Homo sapiens: one gene and its partner. The protein of the gene in region 1 interacts with the protein of each later gene in a pairwise test. Each region holds a gene or a part of one and is shown on either strand. Other genes may lie near its edges. The genes, in order: ZNF518A and ATF7IP.

Region 1 (3,294 bases):
ATATAGTTATTTTGAAGGATATTAGGCTCCTTGAAAGTACATTTAACTCACTACAGTTACACCTCATACAATGCTTGAAGAGTTTTTGGCAAGTAAATTTTTTTTCCAGTTGAACTCTGTCACTTGTTAGAGATTGGGAACACTCTCCCAAGGTGATTTTCTTTTTCTAAGTGACTGTGTCAAATGTTGCAGTAGATGGGCAGCTTCAAGAGAAGAATTTAAACTCTTTGTCTCATTGAAAGTTTGGTTAAAGAACTTGAACATATTTCTAAATTTGATTATATTCTCTGATGATCCCTTTGCACAGAACTATGCTTATCTCATGTTTGTCCTCCATAAACAAATGGCCATTTTTTTCTTCTTGGTTCCCATCCCTTTAAAAAGAGTGGAACATAGGAGCACTTCCAAGGGAGTGGCTTTTCTTGAAAATTAAAATTGTTTACCAAAACAGTATTTTGAAGCAAGATCATATTTTTGTCTGTATTCACTTTATTATTTGAACATGTCCAAATTAGGACAAAGCATTTCTGTTAGCTGCTTCTCAGTGTGACTGACAACCCAAAACATATATACAGATTGTTGGCATTTGCAAAAGGAAGCATCAATAGTGGACCCAGAGGCAGTGCATAAAACCTTAGGATAGATTCCTAAGGGACATGCCCAACAGAGTTTTAAAATGGATGTTTTCATGATGACAACAGAATCATAGATTTAGATTTTTCACCTTGTAAGTTTGGATCAAATTTTGCTGGTTCTTTGGATAATGGAGTTCTTGTGTTAACAAATTACGTGCTATATGATTTTTTGTTACATTGTTACAAGTGTTAATGACATTTTCATTAATGGATGAAAACTTCAGGGCTTCTTTTCTGTATATAACAAATTAAGTCTGTACATATTTTTGTACCTTTTATGTAAATTTTGCACAGAAATTTTTGGCATAAGTTTATTTTCTTTCAGTTTAGTTCAGTGCATGCACTAATAAAACTGGTTGTTTAATTTAAAAGGAATATATAAGACTTTACCCATGTTATTTTCTTGGTTTTTATTTCAGATGTAGATTTTGTTTTTGAGGTAAATTCGTTCTTCAGGGATTGAACACTATTGTTAGCAAGTGCCTAAAAAAGATGTGAAACAGTTTACATATGTCAACTGTAACAGTAGGTCCCAAATGGGCCCATTCCCCTAATAGTTTTATTTTTAAAGAAAGCCATACATAGAATGCTTCAAGCTATCTTGCTATGCACATTATACTTGTACTGTTTTGTGCAGTTTGTCTACTTTCTTAGTGAAGTATTTTTTGTATAAAATGTTACAATTGTGTTTCTTAAATTGAGCCTAAGAATGGAGTTAATTGGAAATATACAGTATATATTAATAATGTACATGGTGTTTAAAGAATGGTAAGCATTGTTAATTTCTGTAATGAACATTTTCAATTAAATTTATCTTGTTTGTGTTTACACAATAATTTTTTTACTGTGCTAAAATCTGATGGAAATTTTGTTCTCTAGGAAATACAGATTTTAAAGTGTATGTGTTTTTTCAATGCTAGTTAACTCTACAAGATAGATAAAAGTGTGGGATTTTTTTTCTTCCCAAAATCATAGATGATATATTGTTTAAGAAAGGTAACATATACCATAATTTTACTATGGTTATGCTGGCAAGGTGAGCCATAGAGAGGCTTATAGTCTTCAGTACCCTAACAGCAATAAAATTAAAATGCTCTGTTTGTTACATATAGATCTGTTATGAGACATCACCTGCTGTAAATAGCAAGGAGAGAGAAGGAACTTTCCTGCTAATATTCGCAGCACTATAACATTACATTTCAGAATAGCCATATCAGGAAAATAATGTCGAGATATGTACTTCTTGCCTTTAAGTTTTAACAGCCATTTAAAGTAAGCTTTGTGCTCCAGATATTCTAGTTGGAACTTTTTCTGATTTTGTTAACTTAAGTTATTCTGAGGGAGGCAGACCTGCTTAGAGTTTCATTATTGCCATTGCAGAAAATCCAAAACAAAAGCCTGTATCCTTTATTTTTTGTGTGTGGCTTTCCAAAGAGGGCTTTCCAAAATATGATTTTCAGTAGTTCGAGGTTCTTATTACAATTGAAGAGTTAGTTTTAGTTTTGCAGTTGAATTTCTGTGTGAGGAATTTGTTTTATTTTTTCTAGTTTGTCCATCTCCACTGAAATGGGTTTCTTACTATTTGGCAAGTACTTAAAAAACATAATTCAGTTTTCAAAGAATTTATCTTGCTAAGTATTCAGTAACACAAATTGAAATGTAATAGTTTTTTTAATGGAAAATATTTTCATTGGGGGGTTAGCAAATTTTTTCAATAAAGGGTCAGATAAATAAGCTTCGTAGGCCTTCTAGTTTCTGTCCTAACTACTCAATTCTCATAATGCAGAAAAAAACCATAGACAATATGTAAATGAATTAGTGTGGCTATGTTTTAATAAAACAATTTATAAAAACAGGAAGTGGGCTGAATTTGGCCCACCAGACATAGTTTACTGACTGTTGCTTGAATTCCCTAGAGTCTGCTTTCAGAATGGGATTTTTATTTAAAAAAACAAGCTTGATAAGTTTCGTGATGTACCTCACCTGTGTAAAAGAGCTACAAAGTACGAACTAAAATATGTATATAAAGTTTCTAGTATAGATGTATTTGTATAACAGTGAAGAGACTGTAAATGTAATGAAAATGGTTAGTGGGTAAAATAGGTCATTTGTGTGCTAAGAGTAGTGCAACTTATGAAGGGATTAAAAATGAGATAGAGCAGAAATGCTGTGAGAATTTATGTCCAGGTTAGATGGGAAAAGGACTTAGATATTCTTTCAGTGATTTGAAATAGCTGTTAAGAAAAAGTAATAGAAGTTCTTGGGGTGGGAGAAAATGGAGGTGAATTAAAAACAGAATATTATATACTAATTCCATACAGCTTATCTTGATTTTTTAAAAATAAGATTCCTTTTCACCATTGACATCTACTTCCTTCCTTAACTTTCTTAACAGAGCCATTTGGGGCGTTGGCTCTGTTCTTTGCCTTAGCAACTTGTTAGGATCCTTGCTCTCAGCATACTACCTTGACCCATTGGGGATCTCATCTAGCAAAACTTACTGGGGGGATTTTTCAGGGTGGTATTTGTTGCTAGTTAGCAGAGTATGGCATTAGTGGAAACTTTTTCCTGTAATGGAGAGTTGAAATGGTTGAGTTTGATGTTTATTAATTTATGTATGCCTCTCTTAATAACTGGAGAATTGAGAAGTAATTAGTAT
Region 2 (3,831 bases), on another chromosome or scaffold:
AAAAAAAAAGTCTGTATAAGAAAGTTAAAAAAGCAAATTGCAGCTTATGATTTAATGAGTACCTTTATGTCAGAATCTTGATATTGGAGGGCATCCCACACAAGGCAGTTAAGTGCTGAGAGATGAATATTAAGCCATCCATGTTGCATACTTTGAAAATTCAAAGTTGGGAATATTTTTGGTTACTTGCCTTTAATCTGATGGTATGCTATTAGCAGGGTAAATTTAGTGATAGATTTAATTTCTTGGCTCATAACTAAACTTTTATTTTGTATCTTTTCCCCTTCCTCTGAAGGTAATTTTGTGTATTTTGAGTTTAAGAATAGTTTCTTAATTGGTTCTTAAACTGTACTCTGTTCTCTTTATATGGCGACAGAATCTGTTGCATGTCATTTATGTTGCTGTACTCCTGTTGAAATGTTACTTAAATAAATGCCTTTATTCTTGACTAATTTTTAATATACTCAGAACACAGAATTATTAGCTGAAGTACTAAAGTTGGCTTCAGTACTGGCTCTTCCTTCTAGCTACTAACATCTATGAGTGTAGTAAAAGGAAAATAGCATAACCTTCTGTCATTTCAGGCACTTGTTGAGCAAATATGTTTTAAATAAAGCAATTGTGATGTGTATCAGCAGCAACAAGAAATAATGAAAGATAAAGCAAATAGAAAAGCTATTTTAATTTTACAAAAGTAGAAGAAAGAACTAAAAAAGTGTTGCATATATACCTTAATAGGTCTAGAGACATTACTGAATTGTGACATAGTATTATGTTATAACTAATACTCACTAATTATTAAAATGATAATCTGTTTAAAGAGGATAGCAAAATAAAGATTTATCTCTCTGGGAAAGTTCAAACACTAGAGGAGCTTCATCGCCATACCATATACTTTCCTCTAACTACTATTTCATCTCTTTCCTTTCTTTTAGTGCCATTCTTCAAGTTATATTAACAAAGCTAGGACCATTTCTTCTTCTGTTAGGCCTTCCACTTAATTGGATTTTGATTTCTGCCTTGGTAGCTGCCGCCCTCCTAATTTTTCTCAGTGAAATGACATTGATGATCATGTTATTAAATCCGGGGACATCTTTTCTTTGTCTTATCTATTCTTCCATACTTGGATGACCTCTTAATAACAGTTCTTCCCTCTTGAGACTCCCCTTAGCTGTTGGGTTACTGCATTCTCCATCTTCCCTTCTTTTTTGGCCTTTCTCATTCTATTTCTTGTGGAAAAATAGGGATAGGCCTCCTCCACGTGCTTTTTTTTCTTAAACATAAGATTTTTGAAGAGAAAAATCTGTTTTAGAGTGAACTAGATTTTTTTTGCATTAAACACTGACATAGTTTCCTTGCAGATTTTATTTCAGATTAAAATAAAAATCTGTGGTTGATATTTTCCTCCCCTTGTTCATTGGATCTTTAAGGTAAATAAAATAAACATAAACTGATGCTAATGAGGATAATTACATTAGACTAGAATTTGAGACTTCCTTCTATTTTTGCTGTAGGTTAGTATTGATAGAATTGGCATGATTTAGTCAATTTACTGTTAATTTGTTGTCACTGTTTATTGTGTTCAGTTAAAATTCTTTATCATCTCAATCCATTTATATTTAGCTGTTACTTATGTACTTGGCTTCTCTTTGTGGAGCTTCTTAGTTCTATTCACTAGTGTGCAAGTTGCAGATTTTTCTTTTCAGAGTTGAGGAAGACCAAAGATGAAGTAGATTTTGGAAGGAGGTGTATAGGAGGAAGATCATTTTTCAAATGAGTACTGTTGTCCAAGTTAGATGTGTAAGTCTGGATTTCAGATCAGAGACTTGACTTGTATTAGAAAAATATAGTAGGTAGCATGTAGCTATTAGGTGACAAGATGAAATCACCTCAGAGTAAGTATACATGGAGAAAAGATCCAAGAATTGTGCTTTTGGCATTTCAGTGTTTAGGGTTGGGGAGATAAGGAAGAACCAACAAAGGAGCTGAGAAAGAGCAGCCCCTGAGGTAGGAAGAAAATGGAGAGATTTTGGTGTTTCAGAGATTTTGGTGTTTCAGAAGCCAAGTAAAAACACTGTTTTGAGGAGGGAATAAGGTAACCGTTTACTATATCAAATGCTGCTGTGTGTGCTCATAAGATGGAAGAGAAGTATTTAACAATCTGGAGATCATTGGTGACTTTTACCAAGGGGCAGTTTTGGTGAATGGTGGAGTGGAAAACCTGATTTGGGTTTCAGAGAGAATGGGAGGGGAAGAATTGGAGATAATACAATGGGACTTTCCCCGCTAGGTTTTGCTTTTAAAGAGAGCACAAAAATTCACATAGGAGATATTATTTGCCATTCTGTATTGGTTAAATAAAACTAATACAAAATGTCTGGAAAAGTCACATTACCAGTCATGCCTTATTTTTCTGATAGATCTTGTTAGGTTGAGAATCTTTATATGTTTATTGGCCTTTTATAGTTCCTTATCTGTGAATTGCCTGTTCATCTCCTTTGCCCATTTTTCTAATGGATATTGTCTTTAATTTGTCTGTAGGAATTTCTTGTTTTGTTACAAATATTTTCATGGAGCCAGTAATCTAAATCAGTGAATGGGGTAGACTGGCCTGTGAGCCCTGTTTTTGTAAATAAAGTTTTATTTACATAAACATAGCTATGGTAATTTGTTTACATGTCACATAGCACTTATTGCACTTATTTGTTTACATGTCACATAGCACTTATTGCTGATTCCTGCAACAAGGACAGAATTAAGAGGTTGTGTCAGACAGAGGTCATGTGGCCCACAAGATTGAAAATATCTATTTTTTGGCCGCTTACAAAAAAGATTTGCCAATCTCTTATCTAAGGCAATGGTTTTTGTCCTCCATTTTTCCTTAGAATAAAGTTCTATAAAGTATAATTCTGAAATGGGAAACTAAGTCCCCTAATGTAAATTCTATTTTGTAATCCTTTAAAAACACAGTTTTCTACCTTTACTTAATGGAACCTTATTAAAGATAGTAGTCATCTGATAGTATTAAACATGTAATTTGTCTCAGCTATTTCTCAAAGTGTTTGGGATTACCAAAATTATGAGATCTGGTATCTGCCCTTAATGAGCTTACTGTCTAGTCTGCTTGAAAGGAAAGAATATGGAACTATGAAAACTTGCCAAATTGTGATAAGGCTATAGCCTTATCCTCAAGAAAATCAAAGGAATTATAACAGAAACTTATCTGTAAGTAAGGACAGATTCTAAAAAAAACATTCTTTTTTTTTTTTTTGAGATGGCGTCTCGCTCTGTCACCCAGGCTGGAGTGCAGTGGTGCGATATCGGCTCACTGCAAGCTCCGCCTCCCGGGTTCAAGCGACTCTCCTGTCTCAGCCTCCCGAGTAGCTGGGACTACAGGCATGTACCACTACATACAGCTAATTTTTTATATTTTTAGTAGAGACAGGGTTTCACCATGTTAGCCAGGATGGTCTCGATCTCCTGACCTTGTGATCCGCCCGCCTCGGCCTCCCAAAGTGCTGGGATTATAGGTGTGAGCCACCACACCCGGCAGTAAAAAAGACATTGTTAACCTACTATTTGGATGAGTTTCAGGAGTCCCAGGAACTACCTGAAATTATGTCTAAAGTTGTCTGTGTACCAAGGGCCTTTGATTATTACTCTGGGTTGAAGGAGACCCATTCTTAGTTTTTCTTCAGGCTTTGTGGACAAAATAAAATTAAAGAAATATAAGGCCCTACCCGTCTCTGTAGAATTTGTTAATACCATTTTTTAAATCCCAAGTTCTTTCCGTTACAAAAAACTCTAGCAACTCTATTTTAATTCTGTGAA

The links.
Region 2: the proteins of ZNF518A (region 1) and ATF7IP interact in a two-hybrid assay, tested with the Homo sapiens proteins (one large-scale study listed by IntAct).

What each region holds. Positions count from the first base shown.
Region 1 is NC_000010.11:96,161,272-96,164,565, forward strand, and holds the end of ZNF518A (zinc finger protein 518A), read left to right. Parts: 3' UTR 1-2,488; downstream 2,489-3,294.
Region 2 is NC_000012.12:14,428,142-14,431,972, forward strand, and holds part of ATF7IP (activating transcription factor 7-interacting protein 1), read left to right. Parts: intron 1-3,831. UniProt on the Homo sapiens protein: Recruiter that couples transcriptional factors to general transcription apparatus and thereby modulates transcription regulation and chromatin formation. Can both act as an activator or a repressor depending on the context.